Linked DNA regions of Homo sapiens. The protein of the gene in region 3 purifies or fractionates together with the protein of the main gene of each other region. This does not show direct contact. Each region holds a gene or a part of one and is shown on either strand. Other genes may lie near its edges.

Evidence for each region.
Region 1: the proteins of AQP9 (region 3) and RAB6B purify together in Homo sapiens (affinity purification with mass spectrometry; one large-scale study listed by BioGRID and IntAct). This does not show direct contact.
Region 2: the proteins of AQP9 (region 3) and DIP2A purify together in Homo sapiens (affinity purification with mass spectrometry; one large-scale study listed by BioGRID and IntAct). This does not show direct contact.
Region 4: the proteins of AQP9 (region 3) and ADCY3 purify together in Homo sapiens (affinity purification with mass spectrometry; one large-scale study listed by BioGRID and IntAct). This does not show direct contact.
Region 5: the proteins of AQP9 (region 3) and USP32 purify together in Homo sapiens (affinity purification with mass spectrometry; one large-scale study listed by BioGRID and IntAct). This does not show direct contact.
Region 6: the proteins of AQP9 (region 3) and CYP51A1 purify together in Homo sapiens (affinity purification with mass spectrometry; one large-scale study listed by BioGRID and IntAct). This does not show direct contact.

Annotation. Positions count from the first base shown.
Region 1 is NC_000003.12:133,889,066-133,893,039, forward strand, and holds part of RAB6B (ras-related protein Rab-6B), read right to left. Parts: intron 1-3,974. UniProt on the Homo sapiens protein: The small GTPases Rab are key regulators of intracellular membrane trafficking, from the formation of transport vesicles to their fusion with membranes. Rabs cycle between active GTP-bound and inactive GDP-bound states.
Region 2 is NC_000021.9:46,535,239-46,539,212, reverse strand, and holds part of DIP2A (disco-interacting protein 2 homolog A), read right to left. Parts: intron 1,990-3,974; coding exon 1,925-1,989; intron 1,768-1,924; coding exon 1,674-1,767; intron 731-1,673; coding exon 611-730; intron 1-610. UniProt on the Homo sapiens protein: Catalyzes the de novo synthesis of acetyl-CoA in vitro. Promotes acetylation of CTTN, possibly by providing the acetyl donor, ensuring correct dendritic spine morphology and synaptic transmission.
Region 3 is NC_000015.10:58,176,243-58,180,216, forward strand, and holds part of AQP9 (aquaporin-9), read left to right. Parts: intron 1-2,885; coding exon 2,886-3,103; intron 3,104-3,974. UniProt on the Homo sapiens protein: Aquaglyceroporins form homotetrameric transmembrane channels, with each monomer independently mediating glycerol and water transport across the plasma membrane along their osmotic gradient.
Region 4 is NC_000002.12:24,913,348-24,917,321, forward strand, and holds part of ADCY3 (adenylate cyclase type 3), read right to left. Parts: intron 1-3,974.
Region 5 is NC_000017.11:60,220,930-60,224,903, reverse strand, and holds part of USP32 (ubiquitin carboxyl-terminal hydrolase 32), read left to right. Parts: intron 1-1,317; coding exon 1,318-1,493; intron 1,494-2,354; coding exon 2,355-2,495; intron 2,496-3,974. UniProt on the Homo sapiens protein: Deubiquitinase that can remove conjugated ubiquitin from target proteins, such as RAB7A and LAMTOR1.
Region 6 is NC_000007.14:92,124,166-92,128,139, forward strand, and holds part of CYP51A1 (lanosterol 14-alpha demethylase), read right to left. Parts: intron 3,467-3,974; coding exon 3,340-3,466; intron 2,263-3,339; coding exon 2,088-2,262; intron 1-2,087. UniProt on the Homo sapiens protein: Sterol 14alpha-demethylase that plays a critical role in the cholesterol biosynthesis pathway, being cholesterol the major sterol component in mammalian membranes as well as a precursor for bile acid and steroid hormone synthesis.

The DNA.
Region 1 (3,974 bases), on a different chromosome or scaffold from region 3:
CTGAATGTTTATGAATTCTGCTGTTCTACCTAGCCTTCTGTCACCTTCCCCAGTGGTTCTGTCCAATAATTTCCCAAAGTTAACCACACTGAAACCAGACAGCCCTACACATTCAATGGCCGATGCATTCGGCAACAATGGACGACTTGGGTGGGGAGGACAGGGGAAATCTGCAGCCTGGATGGGATACAAATGTTACCACCCTTGGGCCTGGCCCCGGCCAGTCTGCAAAGTTTGCAATGTCGGGGCAACATCTATAAAGATAGTCATAGACTGATTTTAGGGATAGAATAAGGAACAAAAGGACAATAAGGTTATTTTGTTATATATATATATATATATATATATATATATATATATATATATATATATATATATATTTATTTTGGGATGGAGTTTTGCTCTGTTGCCCAGGGTGGAGTGCAGTGGTGCCATCTCGGCTCACTGAAACCTCCGCCTCCCGGGTTCAAGCGATTCTCCTGCCTCAGGTTCCCAAGTAGCTGGGATTATAGGCATGCGCCACCATGCCTGGCTAATGTTTGTACTTCTTAGTAGAGACAGGATTTTGCCACGTTGGCCAGGCTGGTCTCGAACTCCTGACCTCAAGTGATCTACCCACCTTGCCACCTTGGTCTCCCAAAGTGCTGGGATTACAGGCGTAAGCCACCACGCCCAGCCTTATTTTGTTATAATTTAATGTGATTCATTATAATCTGGGGGCTGCAAATGATAATGATCATCAGATCATGCAAAAGACAGTAATTATTATTACATCTACGCAGCCAGAACATATTCTAAGTTTCTTTTTTCTTTGCTGGCAAGTTCTCTTGCTATGCATCATCAGATTAAAGGTGCCACCTTCCTCTTATACCAAGTACAGGTTAATTCTCATCCTGGTGTCTGTCTGACTCTCTCACTCACACACATCTGTTTAAACAAATAAAAAAGCAAAGGTTCTGGGCCTGTACCCAACCTCCACAAAGGTGCCCCTTCTTATGCCAGCCACTGAGGAAAGGAGAAAAATTGGGAGGAGAGAAATCAAGAGAAGGAAGCTAAGGCTCAGGGCAACAGGGTGATTTCTTCCAGATGTCAAAGTGAGCTCTGGCAAGCTGAGGTCTGGTGTGTCCCTTTCCACCTCTGGTGGCCTGGTTGTTCTCATGTATTTCTTCAGAGACTAGGAATGAGGAAGTGCCCCCCAAGAACTTCAGGTTTTTTGAGATGAATTGTGAGTTGCGCATGACCAAGGTTACATGATCCAGCTGGGCACCATGGCTCACACCCATAATCCCAGCACTCTGGGAGGCTGAGGTGGGCAGATCACTTGAGGTCAGAAGTTCGAGACCAGCCTGGCCAACATAGTGAAACCCCATCTCTACTAAAAATACAAAAATTAGCCGGGCGTATTGGTGTGGGCCTGTAGTCCCAGCTACTCGGGAGGCTGAGGCACAAGAATTGCTTGAACCCGGGAGGCGGAGGTTGCAGTAAGCCAAGATTCTTAAGATATTGCTGGTAAAAAATCTGGCTTAAAAAAGCAGCAGGTGTCAGGAATTTGAAATAGGAATCCTATTTCAAGCCACCTCAACTTCCTTCACTTTTAATCTACTGATGGGCCATCAGCAAATCTCACACAGCAAGGATAATCTCATCATTTTCAAATCAAGATACTTAATAAGCACAAACTACCTGCAGGTGGGGAGGGGTGAAATGATGACTAAGACATAGACCTCAGAAGATGCTTAAAATTCAATTACGGTTTTTGTACCTGAAAAAGTTAACATTTTAAAATCCTTAGCTAACAGAGACAACAGAAGACAGGTCATGGGGAAGCATATGATTGTATTGTATTTAAGAAATGTTCAGAGAAAACCAAAGCTATGCCATGGTGTGTGGCCAGGTGGGCTGGTAGCCCAGGGGAGCAGGAGTGGAAGTGAGCACCTAAGAGCAGGTAAGTCTGGAAATTGGTGGGAGGAGGAAACTTGCTAGGAGGGGCTGCTGGCACATCTACCAGGCTGATGAAGGGCTCCCTGCAGGAGGGCAGGTGTTCCATGGTGTGGCTAGTGGGAGGGCAGGGGTCAGGATGGGTCAGGCTGCGGGCAGAGGAGTGAGCCTTCCAGGCAGTGGGGGCCACTGAATGATCATTAACCCTTAACCACAGAGGAATGGGCTGAAAGTACAGGGACAGCCCCAACTCAGTACCACCAAGCCAGATACCTGAGAGTCACCCTTGTCCTCTGAACCTCCACCTCATACACTTTCTACAGGGCAGAGCAGAAGAACAGGCAAGGCCCTCTGGGTAGGGTGGGCTTGTTCCAAGACCTACTTTCTACACACAGCCCAAAGATGAAGTAGCAGTAGCCTACTGCCTATAGAAGCATCCCTTGCTAGCCTACGGAAGCTGCCTCTGACACCAGCCCCCAGAGGCGGGTCAGGCGCCCCTGCTCTAGGCCCCAGTAGCAGCTGTTCTTCTCTCATCATGGCTCTCATAGACCTTTACTGTAATTATATCCACAAATGTCTGTGCTCCCAGTGGACTATAAGTTCCAGGAGGGCAGGAATACGCTCAAAGAATAAATAAATAAACAGATAATGGAGGGAGGACAGGAGAGAGAAGGAGTGGGACGGAAGGATACATGAACAAATGACTAAACAACTGAGCAACAAAAAGGCAGCTGCCTGCATAGTCGCTTCATTGCACAGCTCCAAGGAATGCTATTCACAGTATGCTCAACATGGACAGCACCTCCAGCAGCACAATACCAGGGGCAGGGCAGGCAGGTGGCTGGTCAGAGCGAGAAACTGGCCTGCCGTCCTCAGCTAGGAAAGCAGACAGAGCTTTTGCGTCTCCATCCAGTCTTCCTGCTTTTGCTGGAAGAGTCTTGGGGAAGGGGAGGTCAGAAGAAGACAGTGCACAGCAGACGCATCCCTGACCCTTCCCACCACACACACTGAGATGTGCCAAGTGAGGCCTAAAAGCCGACAGAATGCCATTAGAGCTTAGGAGGAAGACGTGGGTCCCACAGGCCCACTCTCCCCTCCTCAAACACCTGCTCCTGCTTGTCTTCTCGGACGCCATCAAATGCCCCAGTCGGGACTGACATATGTCACCCTCCCATGTCTCCTACCACTGCCATCAGCACAGGGGCATACCCAATAGGCCCAGAGAGCCATCTGGCACCAGGGGGACTCCACAGCCTCCCTGCCACAAGGAAATCTCTCATCCTGGGTCCACAGCACCCTCCCCACAATCCCAGCCTGTGCCAAGCTGACACTGTCAGCCAGCCTATATTCCACAGGCCAGGGGGACAGCTGCCAGGAGGGGGGCTCTTTCACTGGCTTGAGGTATTTCCTCCAGAGTGGCTTCTCAAGGGCCTCCCATTCAAACCAGTTCCCTGGTATCTTCAAAGACCTGATGTCCACCTGCGATTATCTGGCCCAGGGTGTGCTCCACACCCTGGTCCATGCACGCCACTCTTCTTGGGAATCCATTGCCCTTGCCCACCAGGCTAGAGAAATGCCACCATTATGCTAGGCACAGGAAATAAGATAAAGCCACATCCCTCCAGCTCCTTCCCCTGGCCCATCTCCAGGGCACTCGGCTCATATCGGCAAGCCCATGCTGCTCTGAAAGACTCCGCTGAGCTCAGCTGGCCCAAGTCCCCCATGCACAGAAGATAAGGGACCTCTGAGGTCATATAAAAAGAGCGAGCCAGGGCCAGCGTGAGGGCCAGCCCTCAGGTGGCTCTCTCCACTGCACAGGCTGCAGAGAATGCTGGCACAAATGACCAACAGATGCAAAACTGTGCAGGCAAGGTAGAAGAAGCGGCTGTGGAGGTGACTCCCCATCCCATAAGGCTTAGAGATGCACATACATGTCCCCTACCTAACTCAAAAGCTGTGTAAAACCTAAAAGAACCCACTAACAATGCAACAAATTGGAAACAGGCTTTTCAGGGCCTTGGGACTCCCTGACAGAA
Region 2 (3,974 bases), on a different chromosome or scaffold from region 3:
AGCCCCTGTGTGACCAGCATCACCTGAGGCTTCCCCAGAGGAGGTACTGAGTCAGACCCTGGACAGTCCTGGGCCCCAGAGCTCACGTGTGCAGCCTTGACAAAGCAGTTCCCATTCAGACCACCGTACGCAGGAGGCCCTACGTGGTCAGGCAGCAGCCATAGGGAGCTCCTCCTGGGAGGATGTGGGGGACACCCAGGCAAACCAGGAGGGAGAATGGTTGGGTCCTGGTGGGAGAAGTGAAGCCAGAAGCCAGAGACGTGGGGGCACCAGGACAAAGGGCAGGAGGGTGGGGATGAGGCCTAAAGAGAAACAGGAACCCCAGGCCACAGCACAATCTGGTAATTTCTTAAGAAAGATGACTCTCATTAAGGCATGTACCTTTCATCAAGCATATTAAAATTGCTTTTAAATTTAGTGGCCTAATAAACATGCATGGGATAAACCAGTGAATCACCAAGATGTTCCGTGTCATAGAAACGATGGGACATGTGTATCTATATGACAATGGCAGTGAAAATGCCTCCATTTTGCTTCTCAGTGTATTCTACTTTGGTTTGCAGGAGGGGACACTGTGTGGGGTATGCGCCGGGCACACAGGCTCACTCACACGGGTTGGCACCATCGGCCACAATCAGCATGCGCAGTGAGCTGAGGCTGACGTCCCTCTGGCCCCGCTGAGCTAGGAGAGACCAGTGCATGTCTCGCGACTTCACCAGCGCGGCCCGAGCTGCAGAGAGAGGATGGCACAGACATCCCTGCGTCACAAGGACTGGCACCCTCACACGCCTACAGACACGTGTACCTCATCCCACAGAGAGGTGTACATGCACAGACAGACACAACACTTAGCTCCCAGGTCACAAGCTCTCTGCAGCCGTCTCTCACATGCAGTCTAACAAACCCTCAAAGCTTTTTCCACAAAAATCAACTCTGAGGTACAATTTAGACATCAAAACCTCAGATCCATTTCCAACATTAATTTTTTCTTAGAAGCTCCATATTGCTCTTTTCCTATCTGCCCGCTTCATCTCATGTTGTCCTTCCCCAAACCCCTGGTGCTGGCTGAGAAGTGTGAGGACCCCAGAAGCTAAACAGATGGTCTCAGGCCTCAGTCTGGCCCCTGCACTGGCTAGCATGTGGAATCCAGCAATCCCCCCACCCCTACCCAAGCTTCAGTTTCCCTCCATAAAGTAGGACAGACAGAGAGAGCTGCCCCTCCACACTGCTCTGAGACATGTCTAGAGGGGCACAGCCCAGTAGGTAGAACAAGGCAACATGGGTGACCCAGGTGATCCAGTGCCTCAGTGGCTGGTAGAAGTGCCACTGAGCTCCACAGGGCAGAGACACAGACTGCCAACTGTGCAGGTGTGGCCATGCTGGGGCCTCCTGCTTGGTCCCAGGAGGCACCTCAACCGTTGAGAGAAGTAAGGCCCAGACCCCACCAAGTGGCCCTACTTACCACATCACCCACGAAACCCTGAGGGCCATGCCAGAGGCAGAGAAAGCCCCCATATTCCTGGGCAGGGGTGTGACCAAGAAAGACGTCCCACAGCTCTTCAGCCTACATCTGCAGTTCCACATGTCAGCTTTATTTTTTCTTAAGCACCAAAGGTCAGTTCAAAGAGATTTCCCTAAAGAAGGGTGAAGGCCCTGACCATGGTATCCGTTACCTTTATAGAAGCACACTTTCTGGATCCAGGAGAGTGGGTTCGCCTTCATCAGCGCGTAGGGGACGCTGACCACGTGCATCCTGTTCATGACGCTCTGTGGGGGAGCACACATGCTTAGGGCGAGTGGGCCCGAGCCACACCAGAAAAAGCAAAACAAAACCGATGTACTCTCCCAACAACATTTCAGGCAGAGGCTTGGGTTCATCTCAATCCCTTGTTCCAACAGTTAGTCATCAGCAAACAACACTCACTGTTAACACGCCATGCCACAGACCAGCATCCCTTTTGAAATCCAGCACGTTTGTTAATGTTTCAGCTGCAAGTGGACAAAGAAGGTGACACCACTGAGCAACCCTCTCAATAAGCCCTATGCATTTTCTAGAGAAATTCTGAGGTGAGTACGTCATCAACATGTAAGTTTCAGGAACAGATACAGCATTTCCAAATACCACATACCAATTAATAATAATCCTGGTTATCTATTCAAATTACTGGAAACACATAAAAGTAGAAGGTCATGGAACTAACACAGAGAACCACGCTGAGCACTAATCAGAAGGCACAGGAACATCACATACTGAAGAAGCTATACAAGGTGTCACCACAGCTTGTCTTTTCTTCTTTTTTTTTTTTTTTGAGACAGAGTCTTGCTCTGTTGCCCAGGCTAGAGTGCAATGGAGCAATCTCAGCTCACTGCAACCTCCGCCTCCCAGGTTCAAGCAATTCTCCTGTCTGAGCCTCCCGAGTAGCTGGGACTACAGGCATGCGCTGCCATGCCTGGCTAATTTTTGTATTTTTAGTAGAGAAGGGATTTCACCACGTTGGCCAGGCTGGTCTCAAACTCCTGACCTCAAGTGATCTGCCCGTCTCAGCCTCCCAAAGTGCTGGGATTACAGGTGTAAGTCACCGCACTCGGCCTCTCCACATCTTCTCATCAGATATTTTTGAGTGGGTATTCTTCTCAGAATCAAGAGGTGGGGATGAAAAACTGTCAGGGATATTCTTACTTCTCAACTCTACACCACATCTCCTCAATTCTCACACCCAGAGGCCGTGATCCGGCATCTCCCCTCTGTAAGAGCTGGTGGTTTGCATCACCCTTCGGAAAGTCACTCTTCCTCTGCCCGTTTTCTCACCCAGAGGTATGCAGCTAACACATCTTAGGAAGCTGGAGTGGATAGGGGTCCTGAGGGTTCCCAGCACAGCTCTCTGCTCAGAGCCCCTGGCCAAGTCTTCTCTAATATCCGGCTCCCACCTTGCACAGGCAGAAAGGACAGAGCCTGGGGCTGTGGGCAGACCTGGCTTCTCGCCAAAGGCCACAGCACTCCAAAGGCAAACAGGAGAGGTTTGATTTGTGTGCCAGGAAATGCTGTTGCACCATGAATAACAGTACTATAAACACCCTTTCTCTGTTGGTTAAGAACACAAATTATTATCATTATTATTTAGAGACGAGGTCTTATTACGTTGCCAGGCTGCAGTGCAGTGAATATTCATAGGCACAATCCCATTACTCATTGGCATGGGAGTTTTGACCTGCTCCCTTTCCTACTTGGGTCGGTTCACCCCTCCTTAGCAAGCTGGTGGTTCCCCACTCCTAGAAGGTCACCATGTTGCTGCCAAACTTCGTGCAGATACCTGGTTAGCACAGCCCACTACAGCCCAAAACTCCTGGGCTCAGGCGGTCCTCTTACCTCAGCTTCCCGAGTAGCTGGGACTATAGGCACACATCATCACGCCTGGCTAAAGAACCCAAATTGTAGGTGACATATGTAAGATCAGCTCTGAGCTGAAGACAAAGAAAGTCACGGGGCTTGATCTGAAAGATCTAACTTTTTTAATAAAGCCCTTAAAAAATACCTAAAATCACTTTCCAAATCTCAAGTAAAAGCTTTAGCTGTGCCCTCAACTTATACCCTTGCTTTTAAACACCTATATTTTTTTCTTTTTTAAAAATTCTATTTAAAATTTCTCCCTTTTTTTGTAGAGACAGGGTCTCACTATGTTGTCCAGGCTGCTCTCAAACTCTTGACCTCAAGTGTTCCTCCTGCTTTAGCCTACCAAAGTGGTGGGATTACTGGTATGAACCACTGCACCTGGCCTGAACACCTATATTTTAGATATTTAGACATACCATTCAATTTCACTCAGTAGTTTTGTTCAATTCTAGTATTACAATGTAAGAAAACTACTGAGTCCATTTTTACAGTTTTTAAAATTGTCACAGTGTACCCCATAAATATATACAATTAGTACTTATCAATTAAATAATATTAATTTAAAGATATCTCAAGTTAAGTA
Region 3 (3,974 bases):
GCACGGTGGTTCACATCTTACTCCCTGCATTTTGGGAGGCCAAGGTGGACAGGTCACTTGAGCCCAGGAGTTCACTACCAGCCTGGGCAACATGGCAAAACCCTGCCTCTACCAAAAATACAAAAATTAGCCATGCGTGGTGGTGCTTGCATGTAGTCCCAGCAACTTGGGAGGCTGAGGTGGGAGGATAGCTTGCACCCAGGAGTTGGAGGCTGCAGTGAGCTATGATTACACCACCACACCTCAGCCTGGGCAAAAAAGAAGAAAATTAGATAGGAAACTGGAGTATAGCGACCATATTATAATAGAAATTTGAAGCAGAGAGCATAGAAGAGCGAGGACAATTTTGGTTATTTTGGTGTTTTTCTCTAAGCTTTTTTTTTTTTTTTTTAAGACTGAGCCTGTTGCCCCAGGCTGGAGTGCAGTGGCGTGATCTCAGCTCACTGCAACCTCCACCTCCCAGGTTCAAGCAATTCTCCTGCCTCAGCCTTTGGAGTAGCTAGGATTCCCAGTGTGAGCCACCACTCCTGGCTAATTTTTGTATTTTTAGTAGAGACGGGGTTTCACCATGTTGGCCAGACTGGTCTCGAACTCCTGACCTCATAATCCGCCTGCCTAAGCCTCCCAAAGCTGTATCTTGATCAATGCTGACCTGCATACCATATCCTGAGCTTCCTTCATTGTGTCCTTGTCTCAGAGTGAGTTGGCAATTTCTCTAAGGTCTGTGGTTTCTAAGCCCATTATTGTGTATAAAGTCAAGTAGAAAAAGCGAATATTAGAAAACCCTGAGGCTGTAACCGTCAGCAAACCCTGAATGCTGTCCGTATTCTTAGGCTTTGGAGAGAGTTCCAAAAATTGCCAATTATCAGTCAGTCAACACCCAACAGAGCTCTTGGCCATCATGACCATATTTTGGGGTCACCTTATTTCAAGATTACTAAATTGTTTAGCTGTAAATACTCTTCAAGCATATTCCTTGGTTTAGTTAATAATCAATCATTTATTTACCCAATAACTATTTACTGGGCACCTACTTAGCCAAGTACAGCTCTATACTCTTCCTTCTTCAAGGAGTTCAGAGTCTGAGGCTCAATCTAACAAGTAAGTAGATACTCTTTTGCAGAGTGACAGGGACACTGATACAAGTAAAGTCAGAATGTCATGGAAGCCCAGAGGAGGGAGCTTTTACTCTGCAAGAGAGAGTTGGAGAAGGCATTCCAGAGAAGAGTGCTCTTGGGGGAACATGTGTCTTTTAATATTAATTAAAAATTATTTTAACATTATTATTTTGGAAAGCAGATGAAATGATAATGAACTTAAACTTTAAAATCAGTTGCCTGGTTCCCATCCTGATTCTTCTGCTTACAAGTTTGACATTGGACAAGTGTCTTAACCTTGTTTTACTCGAGTTTTCTTATCTATAAACTGAGAATAATAGCAGGATTTACCTCACAGCATTACTGTGAAGTTTTAATGAGATAAAGCATATGAAGTACCTGGCACATAATAAATGTTCAATAAATAATAGCTATCATTTAACTGTTAAAGTAAAACAGTAGTTTGGAAAACTAATAACATAGAAACCAGCTATAATTGGCCAATTCAAATACCTATTATCATTTTTGTTTATTGTCTTAAAATTTTTCTTTTACGTATGTTTTTAAGTAGAGTCAACCCTACATATCCATGAATTCTGCATCCATGGATTCAACCAACCATGGATCAAAAATATTTTTAAATTGCATTTGTATTGGACATGTACAGACTTTTTTCTTGTCATTATTCCCTAAACAATACCGTATTCACATTATATCAGATATTATAATAATCTAGAGATGATTTAAAGTATACAGGAGGATGTGCATAGGTTATATACAAATAATACACAATTTTATATTGGGGACTTGAACATCCATGGATTTTTGGTACTTGCAGGAAGTCCTGGAACCAATCCCCCACAGACACCAAGGGACAGCTGTATAAAACACAAAACAAAACACAAACACAAACAAAAAAATACAAATTTTTTTCACTTAATGTTATAAGTATTTTTAAATATTACTACATAGCTTTTATGTTTATAGTTTTTAATGGCTATACAGTAGACTAAAAAAAGAGTAAAAGCTTCCAGTTTTTCAGTACTATAAATTTTGCTAAAGTGGACATTTTAAAATGATTTTTCCACGTTTTAGATTATTTCCATTGTGTAATTCTCAAACATCCAGCAGCATCAAATTGTATAAATAAATTTATGTTTTTGAATGCATATTGCTAAATTATTGCTGAATTTCCTTTTAAAAGCATAGTACTTGTTTAGATCTATTAGAAAAGCCTGAAATAACGGGTATCTTTTTCCTAACATTTGATATTGTTTGGATTTATTTTATTACTAATGAGTTTTTACCACTGCTTTCCTAATTCTGTTTTCCTTTTTTGAATTTTCTGTTCACTTCCTTTGCACACTCATCTATTGATATCTCACATTGCTTTTCTCACCAATTTGAACAAGCCTTTCATTCATTTTTCCAGCCTGCAGCTTGCCGTTCTACTTAGCTGAGTAGTAGCTTAGCAGGATAGTGTGGTATTAAGATAACAGTCTCTGGAGCCAAACTCTCTGGATCCAAACCTGACTGCCACCTACTAAGTGGGCAGGGTAACCAATCTGTAAATGAGAATTATATTGGCTTCTCCTCTAGAATTGCTGTAGAAAGAAGAGAGACTGGCACAATTATTCACCCAGTACATGCCAGTTATTACTAGGCATATTGTAATATAAGTAAAATAGTAATATTGTAATATTGTAAAATAGTAAGAAGGGATGATTTTGAGACATGCAGGTGAGCAGAATGCAGGCTAAAGCCCTGGCTCAACTTCTCCCTCTCCAGGTGGTGGCCACCATGATACTCCTCATAATCGTCTTTGCCATCTTTGACTCCAGAAACTTGGGAGCCCCCAGAGGCCTAGAGCCCATTGCCATCGGCCTCCTGATTATTGTCATTGCTTCCTCCCTGGGACTGAACAGTGGCTGTGCCATGAACCCAGCTCGAGACCTGAGTCCCAGACTTTTCACTGCCTTGGCAGGCTGGGGGTTTGAAGTCTTCAGGTAAGTAACAGTGGTGGGGAAGAGAGAGACAGAGTCATGCTGCGCCTCACCAGTGGGGCGGGGCTTTGACATGGAGATCCAGGGAAGTTCAGATGACAGCGCCAACGTTAACTGCACACTCTGGTCATAAGCATGAGACATTTCACTGGTATTTTGTGGTATGATGTGTGTGTGTGTGTGTGTGTGTGTGTGAAAGAGAGAGAGAGACAGAGAAAGAGAGGCGGCTCTAGGTAAATTCAATAGAGATAAAACTGTCCCACATAATAATAATCCCTCAATTGCTATATGATTTTATGTGAACATTTTAGCTGTATAACTTGTCTGCAGATTCATTTTGTGACAAAGTTGGGCTACAATTTGCATCCTATGATGCCACTACAGGGCTCTTCCTCGTGAACCACGCAACCTATGCTGCACTTATTCCACAGATATTTGTTGGGCATTATCTGTGCTTTAGTCACTGTGCTAAGCAAGGAAATTTCAAATCAGCAAAAGCACTCACCTTGAGCGATATAATAAGTGCTCTGGCAACCCCTAAAAGTGCTGCAGGAACACAGATAACGTGTGAGTAACTGCCAGGGAAGCAGGGAAAGACATGACTGCAAATGTGAGAGCTGACTTGGTTCTGGAGATATGAGTAAGAACTTCCGGACAGGACAGACGTAAGATTGAGCCTCTGCCCCAGAAATGGCAAGACTCCACACTTTCTACTTCAGAATGTGCTGAGGAAATACGCCAACTGTTGGTACCTATCTTCTAGGACAAAATTTGCCCCTTCACTACTTCCTGGTTTCCCTGCATGCAGTCACAGAGGCGCATCCTCATCCACCCATGGCAACTTCCTATGGGGAAGGAGCTCACTTTGGTTCAT
Region 4 (3,974 bases), on a different chromosome or scaffold from region 3:
AGGGGGTGCCTCCTGTTATACCTTAGGGACTGCCATCTCTTGGCACTGTTCAGCTACGTTGCTTAGCAAAGACATTTGGGGGCAGCCAGAAAAGTAGGAGGCCCAGATGCCTGGGTTCCAGAGAAAGAGAGGCTTTCAGGGAAGTCCCCCAACCCACCTTTCTCACTCATCAGTGACCCCTCCCCTGTAATCCAGCCCCACTACCTCCTCTCAACCTCACTGAGCCTCAGTCCCCTTATCTGTGAAATGGAGCCAGTAACATCCAGGATTAAATGGGATGAGGTGCATGCAACAGCTACCTGCCGTCTGCAGACAGGGTGTCTCTGGAAGCCTCAGTTTCCTCTCACCCTCCCTACGGCAGCTCCCTCCAGCCCCTAGGAGCAAATGTTCCTTTGCTGGGTGAATGATTGCTGTGTAATTTGCAGGTGTGAAAGAAACTGCACATCCACAGCTTCCTCATGTTTTACTTGGTGAAAAAAGGTCTTAACAGGCTCTTCATTCCATGAGAGAATTTTGCTCCCAAATAGCCTTTCTGCTCTGAAGTAAGGGTACAAAATATTTGTCAGCAGTTCCTAGTCCCTACTTTGCCAAATGCTAAAGGCACGCCCCGCCCACCACCACCCCCAACCATCCTGGCTGCCTTCCCCATTGTCCGCACTCATTGGCCGCTGGTCCTGCAGGTCCTGGTCCTGAGCCCAGTCCCCTCCTTCCTCCTCACCCAGCCCAGGGGCAGTTTAGGGCAGTAAAGGGCAAGTAATTCCGTAACAGGTCCTGGGGCAGGACCCAGGCCAGGGGAGCGAAATGGGCAAACACTGCCAGCCTCGGCTCCTCCTGATCCATCTGTCCTCCCTTCCGGCTGCTCTGGGCCTGTGTTGCCTCTTGGGATGGGGGACCCATGGAGCAGCAATCAGTGCTCCATGGAACACAGACAAATGAGCCCTGGGCTGGGAGTCAACGCCTGGGCTCCCGTCCTGTTTCTGCCACCAAAGTGATGGGTGACAGTGAACCAGTTATCACCCATCTCTGTTTCGTCCTCTGTTCCCTCCTCTGGACAGCGGCTCACACCTGTAATCCCAGCACTTTGGGAGGCTAAGGCAGGCGGATTATCTGAGGTCAGGAGTTCGAGGCCAGCCTGGCCAACATGGTGAAATCCTGTCTCTACTAGAAATACAAAAAAATTAGCCAGACGTGGTGGCGGCCACCTGTAATCCCAGGTACTTGGGAGGCTGAGGCAGCAGAATCACTTGAACCCGGGAGGAGGAGGTTGCAGTGAGCCAAGACTGTGCCATTGCACTCCAGCCTCAGAAATAAGAATGAAACTCTGTCTCAAAAAAAAAAAAAAAAAGGAATGGGGGACAGGCAGGGGCTAGAGGATGGGTCGTGAGAACCATTGGCTAGGTCTCTGCCCACCCAAGGTGGCTCTCAGAACATCCTCCCCGCCCCAGCACAGCCTGAGTGTCAGATGGCCTCATCCTCCTTATCCCCTGACCTTGCAGGCTGCAAGGCCCATGCTGCTCGGCAATATTCACTCATTAACTCATTGGTGGGGCCCCAGCCCCACCCCATCCCACACTCCCTGATCACCTGCTCTTCCTGTCAGAACCCCACCCACTGGCCTCCTGCGAGGAGCCCAGGACAGGTTGTCTGGCTGGCCTCTGACCTCTCAGGCTGCCAACAGCCCCATGTGTACCTTCTGTCCTTCCCCACAGAGCTGCGCATGGGCATGGGGGGATAAGGGCTGCAGAGGAAGAAGACTTTTGACACTGGCAATGCTTCTTCATGCTGCCAGTGACAGCAGCAACAAAACCACAAAACTCACAAGAACCCAGAAATCCAGGTGTCTATTTCGAACTGGGAAACTGCGTTCATCCCCCACTGACCCTGGAGGGAGTCCCCAGCCAGAGCCGACAGGGGATGGGAGAGAGAAAGACAAGGGCAAGCACATGGGTAGGAGAAAGGCGGTGCCTGGGGTCTGGAGAAAGTTCTGGGACCTACCCTGACCAGAAGGGGCCTGGTCCCCTGGTTCTTGCATCCTGTCCTCCAGCCCTTGCCCCCGATCCTTGATGGGGCCCACATCCCAGGAGGCAACGGCAGCAGGGGAGATGAATGACACCTCACTCCAGGGCTCAGGGGAGACCGCTGTCCCGGGTGTCCCTCCCCACAGCAACACAGGCTGCTGCAGCTTGTGTTTTTTGTTGTTTTTGTTTTTGTTTGATGGAGTCTCACTCTGTCGCCCAGGCTGGAGTGCAGTGGTGCGATCTCGGCTCACTACAATCTCTGCCTCCTAGGTTCAAGTGATTCTCCTGCCTCAGTCTCCTGTGTAGCTGGGATTATAAGCACGCCCCATCACACCTGGCTAATTTTTGTATTTTTAGTAGAGATGCGGTTTCGCCATGTTGGCCAGGCTGGTCTTGAACTCCTGACCTCAGGTGATCCGCCCGCCTCAGCCTGCCAAAGTTCTGGGATTACAGGCATGAGCCACCATGCCCGGCCCCATTTCCACCATCTTCAGAGGCCAAATGCCGGGATGCTGTGAGTTGAGGAAGACCCTGGTGGGTGGGCCTGGGAACCCAGGCACCTTTTAAAAAGTCACATTAGTCCCAAACCAGTGACTCAGAAGCTTCTGGAACACAGCCCACTGTAAGCTGGGGCCTCCTGCCTTCGATCTCAGGCTCCCAATCGGACCTTGAGAGCTCTCTGCCCCTCCTGCTCTGTTCCCAAAGCTGCCTCCCAGGCACTGCTTGCATGCCAAGGTCAGGCTCCCCTGGGATGCTAATATTTTTATTCTTGATTTCTATCTTTTTTTTTCTGTTTTCTAAGTTTTAGGGTTTTATGTCTTAGCAATACTCAAAGGAGAACAATCATGAGTTTAGAAGTGATCTCCGAGTAGCCACGTGGTGGGGCACCCAGGCCCCGGCCCAGCCCTGTGGCCATACCTTCTCAGTCCTTTTCCCTGGAAGCTCCAGGAGCCTCAAAATAAGCTCCTTGTCCACCTGAGGAGATGGAGCTAGAGAGACCAGTCATCCTCAGACCTCAGACCTTAGAACCTGGGATGCCTGGGCATGGTGGCTCACGCCTGTAATCCCAGCACTTTGGGAGGCCGAGGCGGGCGGATTATGAGGTCAAGAGATCGAGACTATCCTGGCCAACATGGTGAAACCTTGTCTCTACTAAAAATACAAAAATTAGCCAGGCGTGGAGGCGCGTGCCTGTCATCGCAGCTACTCAGGAGGCTAAGGCAGAAGAATAGCTTGAACCTGGGAGGCGGAGGTTGCAGTGAGCTGAGATCGCGCCATTGCACTCCAGCCTGGCAACAAAGCAAGACTCCGTCTCAAAAAAAAAAAGAACCTGGGACTGGCTAATGCATGGCCTGAAGAGATATGACTGGTGTTTCCACCTAGTCAATGACCAGAAACTCACAGCCCCCTCTACAGAGATTTGGGGTGGGGACGGCAGGGCAGCACATAGCCACTGTCTCCAGGAGGTGGGGTGGGAAGCAAAGCTCCTGCTCTCAGGCAGCTCTCAGTGCTCCAAGGAACATACACAAATGAGCCCTGGGCTGGGGGTCAATGCCTGGGCTCCCGTCCTGTTTCTGCCACCAAAGTGCTGGGTGACAGTGAACCAGTTATCACTCATCTCTGTTTCCTCCTCTGTAAAATGGGTAGTCTGGGCTAGATGCCCTGCCAGGCCCTGCCTATGTTAACATCCTCTACCCATTTCTAGAACAAATCAGCAGGATGAGACATGAGTGGAGAAATCAGCAGAGGAGTGGAAGATTCTGTCTGTCCACCCTGGGCCTGCACATAGCACCTGGTCTCCAGGACCCAGGCACTGACCTCCATGGCTGCTAGAGGCTCACGTCAGTCAGCAAGGATTCTGGGCACGCCCTGCCTCTCCTGACACCCAGAAGGTCACCGCTTCAGAGCTGACTCTACCCCAGCCCCACTAACCACAGAACAGAGCTGGCGTGGGAG
Region 5 (3,974 bases), on a different chromosome or scaffold from region 3:
ACCTACAAGGAAGATGCTGTGGTATTTCTATGGCCCAGCTGAATTGAGTTGATTGCTGTTATTCTGGTACAGTAGCAGAACCCTCAATCTTACCCTATTGTTATTTATTTATTTACTTAAAGAGACAGGGTGTCACTCTGTTGCCCAGGCTGTAGTGCAATGGCATGATCATAGCTCACTGTAACCTCCAGTTCCTGGGCTCAAATGATCCTCCTGTCTTAGCCTACCTGGTAGCTGGGACTACAGGTGTACACTGCCACACACAGCTAATTTTTTAATTGTTTTGTAGAGACGAGGTCTCATGTTGCCTGTGCTGGTTGCAGTCTTCTGGCTTCAAGCAGTCCTCCAGCCTTGGCCTCCCAAAGTGCTGAGATTACAGGCATGAGCCATTCCTCCTGGCGTGTGTTATTATTTCTTCCAAGATGTTCTTTTCCTTTTCTGTGGAAGGTGTAAGCAAATTGGACAGAGCTAGCATTTTCTTCACAAAGCTCCTTGTAGAATCTGCTTCTTCCCTCCCTTTCTGGTATTACAAAGATCACTTAGCAGTCCTAGAAGTGCTGTCATCAGCTTTAACATGAGGATTATTTCTTAACCCCATCTAAAGATCCTGTTTGGTATGTGCTTACCATATAACTTGTGACACCCAAAGGCTGCATACCACAGGCAGAAGGTTACAAAGTGATGACTGCTAGATTGTTTACCAAAGATTAGCATGTAGTTGAGAGTTGAAATGGCTTAAAATACCACTGAGGCTCACAACTCTAAGCCATGGTTAATCATCTTCTGTGCATATTTTCGTATTGTAAAGATCATGTATTTCTTTCAAAAGAACTTGTGGACATTGAGTTCATAGATACAATAGGATCTAGCCCCCATTACTCTTTTGTTGGAGTTCTTGTTTTAGTTTTCTTTTAATTTAGTGACTTCATATCACCATTATCTACCAAGAACATTTGGAATATTTTTCTAGTTTGAGGAAAATAATTAAAGGATGCTATGTAGAAGCCCAGCCACTTAGCCCAGCTCTTCCCTTCCAGTCGGAGGACATATAATTCTCATTATGAATTATTAGATATTCTAGGAGGGTGGCCAAATGTTCATTTGGTAATAATTTTAAAAGCTCTTATTTTTAGTACCATGCCATGTATTGTTCAGAGAAGGATAACATTTCCTGTCTTCTACAGAATTACCAGAATCTTAATCTGTACTGACATGTCAACAGAGTAATACAATACATGGGCATTGAGTTCATATCCTCAAGCCTGTTTATGTATAATAACTAAAAATAAGAGATTCTATCCTCTTTTTTTTTTATAGGCTTTCTGTATTCTGCCACACCAGGGGCAGATGTTTGCTTTGCTCGACAACATAACACTTCTGACAATAACAACCAGTGTTTGCTGGGAGCCAATGGGAATATTTTGTTGCACCTTAACCCTCAGAAACCAGGGGCTATTGATAATCAGCCATTAGTAACTCAAGAACCAGTAAAGGTAAGTAATTTTACATCTAAACTTAAAATTATTCTCTTGCAAGCTATTAATAAATTTCATTTCAGAGGTTTTAGCACATAGCAAAACATTGATGGTTCATTTAATTACTGTATTATAGATGGACATCTCTTTGTATAGTACATTTCTGTGAGAATATTTATGATTTAGAACTTACATAGAAGTAGTTTAGTAACCCTTGGCATTATTGTTATTCTTACTTAGGACAGCTATTCTGAAAATGTTGTTTCACATACGCTATGTATGAATTTTTTTTTCCAAACTAGTATTTTTTATTGTTTGAAAGAAATCTGTGAAGTTATTTCAAGTGCTTTAGTGATTTTTCCAAATGATATGCTTTGAGTTTCATTTCTTACATAGTTTATTTTGAAAGTCAAAAATAAAAATCTCTCATTAAAAATTCAGTTTTTTTGCTGGACGTGGTGGCTCATGCCTGTAATCCTAGCACTTTGGGAGGCTGAGGTGGGCAGATCACCTGAGGTTAGGAGTTTGAGACCAGCCTGGCCAACATGGTGAAACCCCGTCTCTACTAAAAATACAAAAATTAGCCGGGCATGGTGACGTGTGCCTGTAATCCCAGATACTCGGGAGGCTGAGGCAGGAGAATCACTGGAACCCGGGAGGCGGAGGCTGCAGCAAGCGAAGATCGCGCCACTGTACTCCAGCCTGGGTGACGGAACAAGACCCCGTCTCAAAAAAAAAAAAAAAAAAAAAATTAAGTTTTTCCAGCAACATGAAACTGGGTGGTGATATATGAGTTTGTTTTCCTGTTTCTAGGTATTGCTGAGACCCAAAAACTTTTGTAATATTGAAAGTCAACATTGTCATTCTATTCTTTCTCAGGCTACATCATTAACACTAGAAGGAGGACGATTAAAACGAACTCCACAGCTGATTCATGGAAGAGACTATGAAATGGTCCCAGAACCTGTGTGGAGAGCACTTTATCACTGGTATGGAGCAAACCTGGCCTTACCTAGACCAGTAAGTATAGTTAATAGTGCCTTATATAAGGAGCAGTCATAGATGGGGGTCTTCTGTTACTTTTTCTATGTGACTCTCACTAACCACAAAGTAGCTCTTACCTTGTGGTAGAAGAGTGTTCTGAACCTGTGTGGATTGTTCAATGTTAAGTTCCTTCACATTCGTTCATTCATTCATAAATAAAGGCAAGGAAATAGGAGGCTGTTGAATGTGTTATCCACATAAAAGTAGACATCACCTAGGATATGTGGAACTTAGGCTGGAGGGGAAGACAGGCCAAGAGCCAGTGCCAAAAAGTTCAGTGAATGTAGGGCGTGATGCAGAGGTTATTTCTGAAACTACTATTCCTAACAATCACACAAGTATCTAGTTAGGGATTGGATTCTTCTTGTAGCTTTTGGTGGATTTTTGTGGTTTATGTTTTTGAAGGAGGGGCATATAAAAGATCACAACATATGATAACAGAATATTATATTAAAATATTAGTATATAGCACCATTTGTTGTGCTTACACGGTAAACAGCACTCGGTACTCTGGACACTCACTTTTTACATTGTTGATGAAGTAAAATATAACAAGATGTTTTGGTGGGATTTGTTTTGGTATATTAAGAAACACTCTTCCACCTGTAATCCCAGCACTTTGGAAGGCCGAGGCAGGCAGATCACGAGGTCAGGAGTTCGAGACCAGCCTGGCCAACATAGTGAAACCCCGTGTCTAATAAAAATACAAAAATTATCCAGTGTGGTGGCACACTCCTGTAGTTCCAGCTACTTGGTAGGCTGAGGCAGGAGAATTGTCTGAGCCCAGGAGGCAGAGGTTGCAGTGAGCCAAGACTGCACACCATTGCACTCCTGCCTGGGTGACAGAGCGAGATTCCGTCTCAAAAAAAAAAAAAAGAAAGAAACACTCTTCCTTTTATAATGTCCAAGCTAAAACTTCCTTATGCCAGGAAGGTTTTGTATAGATGAGATATGGTACGTTAACTTCTAAAAAGAGTAAAAATCTGTTATAAAACAGACTAATGTAATTTTGATGTTGATTTTGAGTTCTTAATAATTACGTTTATGAAAAATAACCTCAAGCTCCAGGGTTTGAACAATATTCCCACCTCAGCCTCCCCAATAGCTAAGACTGCAGGCACACACCACCATAACAGCTAATTTTTAAATTTTTTTAAGAGACAGAATCTTGCTGTGTTGCCCAGGCTGGTCTCGAACTCCTGGTCTCAAGCAGCCCTTCTGCCTTGGCCTCCCAAAGTGCTGGTATTACAGGCATGAGCCACTGCACCTGGCTTGTAGTGTTGTTTTTATTTGATTTTTATTGCTCCCTCTTGATACTAAAAAAAAAAAGTTCTGTTGCAGAAGATATTGGTTATGAGAGTAAAGGAAAATAAAGCCTGGTCACCTGAGACTTAAAAGACTCTGTACAGAGTTTCTGTTTTCAAGAATTTCAGTGTTGGCTGGGCGCGGTGGCTC
Region 6 (3,974 bases), on a different chromosome or scaffold from region 3:
CCAGTTCAACAGAAAGTAGGATACTCTTTTAAATTAACATAAAATTCCAATTTTAATACCAAATCAAGTCTTAAAGCAGAAGAGTCACTCTGGTTCTTCCATGGAATCTGGTTCTACTTTTCACTTTCTAATACAATAGTTTTTTGTAGGGGGTGAAAATACTAGCAGATTCAGAAAACAAGCTTCAACTCCTAAACTTTACCTTTAAATAGTATGTTCACTATGTAGCAGGTACCATGTTAAGTGTTTTACATGAATTACTCACTTTTATCTTCCTGTGAGGTACATACTATTAACCTCAAGTTATAGCTAGCTGCATAAGATCACACAGAAAGCAAACATTGGAGCTGGAATTTAAAACTAGGCAGTCTGACTCCCAAGCCCCCTCTTAAATCAAGCCTTCTAAAAAAAACTCCTACTCTGTTTCATTTACAAGACTGTTAATCTGTTATTGAGGATCAACTGAAACCATGTGTACAGAAGAGAAGATGTTGGGGCTTAACTGTATGAATACAGTCGAACCAGGAAAACATAGGCCTGTTTAAGAAAGTGAATTGAATAATCTGGTTAAATTAGTTGGTATGAGTAGAAGAAAGAAAGACTGGGCCAGAATGTGAAGGGCCTAACATAGCAAGCTCTGACTTCATCCAAGAGACAGAGCAGGTAGAAACAGGCAGGTAGAAATGTACATTTATGGGCCAGGTGCAGTGGCTCACGCCTGTAATCCCAGCACTATGGGAGGCCGAGGCGGGCGGATCACAAGGTCGGGAGATCAAGACCATCCTGGCTAACACGGTGAAACCCCATCTCTACTAAAAGTACAAAACAATTAGCCAGGCTTGGTGGCGGGTGCCTGTAGTCCCAGCTACTCGGGAGGCTGAGGCAGGAGAATGGCGTGAACCTGGGAAGCAGAGCTTGCAGTGAGCCGAGCTCATGCCACTGCACTCCAGCCTGGGCGAGAGAGCAAGACTCCATCACCAAAAAAAAAAAAAAAAAAAAGAAATGCACATTTATGGAGAACCCACTATGAGTCCAGGGCTGTGCTGGGTGTTCTAATATAAGATATATGAAAACATTTTGAAACTGCAAAGCTCCTTGCAAATATAAGGTATGATGAGTTCCAGAGAACTTTAGGGAATCTCTCCTGGCTCTTCCTTTTACTCCCACCCCTCTTCCAATCTGTAACTAGATAGAGGGGGCAGAAATAGAAGAAAAGGGACTAGCAATCTATCTCCTCCCCATCTGTCACCTAAACACCAATAAATCAACAAAAGTACAGAAAGCCTACTAATATGCAAAACACTAAGCACTAAGCTATAGATCAAGTCCTAAGAGCAATATTTCTTTATATCAGAGGCAGTCCCTGTCCTTAAGAAACAGAAAATTAAATAAAGGCACAAATATTTAAAACAAAGAAACTTCACAATACAATAAAAAGCCACCAAAGATTTCAAACAAGTGCTAGAGAAGAGCTGTATCACTTTTAGGTATAGTTCAGAGACTTTCCTGAGGATAAGGAATACGTGAGGTAAGCAGGCTTTTAAACTAGGCTGGGCTCAGTGGCTCACGCCTGTAATCCTAACACTTTGGGAGGCTGAGGCAGGTGGATCACCTGAGGTCAGGAGTTTGAAACCAGCCTGGCCAACATGATGAAACCCTGTCTCTACTAAAAATAGAAAAATTAGTTGGGCATGGTGGCACGTGCCTGTAGTCCCAGCTCTCAGGAGGATGAGGCAGGAGAATTGCTTGAACACAGGAGGCAGAGACTGCAGTGAGCCGAGATCACACCACTGCACTACAGCTGGGGCAACAGAGCAAGACTCCATCTCAAAAACAAAAACATAAATAAAATATTAGACTAGACAGACAACAAATCACCTTTTTAATAAACTGAAACTTACTTTAAATGAGCTCATTATATAAAGAAAATTTGTCTTGAATTCTTATAGAAGAAAGGGGATTCATAATCTTACCCATTTTGTATGTTTTACTTGTTTAATTTTTATCTTTGTTAAGGCAAAGCATACCAACACTACAATAATTATACAAAGTTAAATAACCTAGTGTAATATATTCTTTATCCATACCTGAAACTAGGCAAAGGCAGCCAACCTGGTAAGAGCCAGGCTGCATGGCTGAAACCTCCATCCAAATCTGCATACAGCTGTGCTACCTTTTCATTGAGTTGACTTCTGATTTCCTTTCCATGCAAACAATGGCTAGCTGTTAAAATTATGAGCTCAGAAAGAGCTTCAAACACATCTAGGGAGAAAAAAAAGATTATTCTCATTACTATTTCCAAAAAGTGAAAGAAAATTGAGAATTAAAAACAGAACTCAAGAAGAAACAAGATCCTATTCATATCATCAAAAAAAGTCTGTAGACAGACATGTGACTATGTACAACAACAAAGAGGGGCAATAAACCAAACAATGTGAAGCACCCTGTCCCTCTAAACAGCCAAAACAGATCCCAGAAACACATCTCAAAACCCCACTCATGAGCACTTCATCATGAAAAGAATAAATGTGGTTATTTGATTTCCAGGTCACAATAACAAAAGCAGAAAAAAGGTTATTTATAGTGCATATGACAATAATAAGGTACTTCCCAAGGAATAGTAGCCAAAGATCAGATTATTTCCCAGGTTAAAAGTAGGAAGATCAGGGCCAAAATGGAATTACTGGCGATATGTAAAAGAAAACTATAATCACCAATTAGTATATCCCAACACTGGAGACAAATGCACCAGGCAAGCATAATTTGATGACAACTAATAAAAATTATCCAATTAATTTCCTGTTAATTCCACATTCACTAAATGAACTTCCAATGATCATCTGGCTTTCCAATTATATTTGTCAATAAAAAGAATATCAGTAAATATTCTGGATTTCTTGGTGCTGTAATTATATGTCTCACATGCATTATTACATTGGCATTCTAATTTATACATCAGTTTCTTGTATGGTTAGAAAATATATCAATATCAACTTAAGTATACCAAAAACAAAGATTCTGGAACTCTTACAGAGGCCAAAGGCCAGACCCAGAATATAGTGACCTGCTGCCCTGGGTCCTGCTGCCCTGTGGGCAGATGTTGCTTCCTACTATGGGCACAGCAATTGCTTCTGAAGGCAATACTTAACTTGCAGCCCAGTATAAAAACTGGATTCTCAGTTACAACTTCATGGTAATCATTACATAACCCTCCCATAAATCTAAGGTAGTTTTACATACACTGTAATTTGTTTTTTATATACTACACACATATATACTCTACTTTTCTATTCACAGAGAAGTAGAAATGTTAGGACAAACATAAAACATTTTGCTTACTTTTTTCTCCACTTTCTCCCCAACTCTCAAAGTATTCCTTTGTTTCTTTTTCAATTATAGAAACATGCTGTTTAAAGTGGGCTATGTTAAGGCCACTTTTTAACATTTTCTTCTGCTCCAAGAAAACCTTCAAAAAAATTCAAAACGGGGATACGGCATTAAAACACATTTTTGTTTTATCATAAAATCCATTTAGGTTATTATAATTATGTAACACTAACACAAGTAATGGTTTTAACCCTTTGGGCATTTACATTTTAAGAGTCTAAATGAATAGATCTATCTGACTCTAAATGAATAGAGTCTAAATGAATATATATATCTGAACAGAGGGATTTTCCAGGGCCCTGTTTTTTGGCCTTAAGGAGAGGCATTCATTCCCTCATTCCCCATCACTAGAAACAAGATTTAATGTTAACTCTTAACTGCTATACTAGGGTACTGGCTAATGTGTGTTACATTCACAGCCAGAGCCCATACCAAGCATTGGGGCCAATTGTCTGATTTGTGTTCTATATCAACTTAAAACAATTTCGTATTTGGCTTTTGAGGGTAAAACATACACATAGATGTACCCCACACGTGAAGTTGTTGCATTAAAAGAGGACTTCTGAAGTCAGCAATCTCTAAACAGC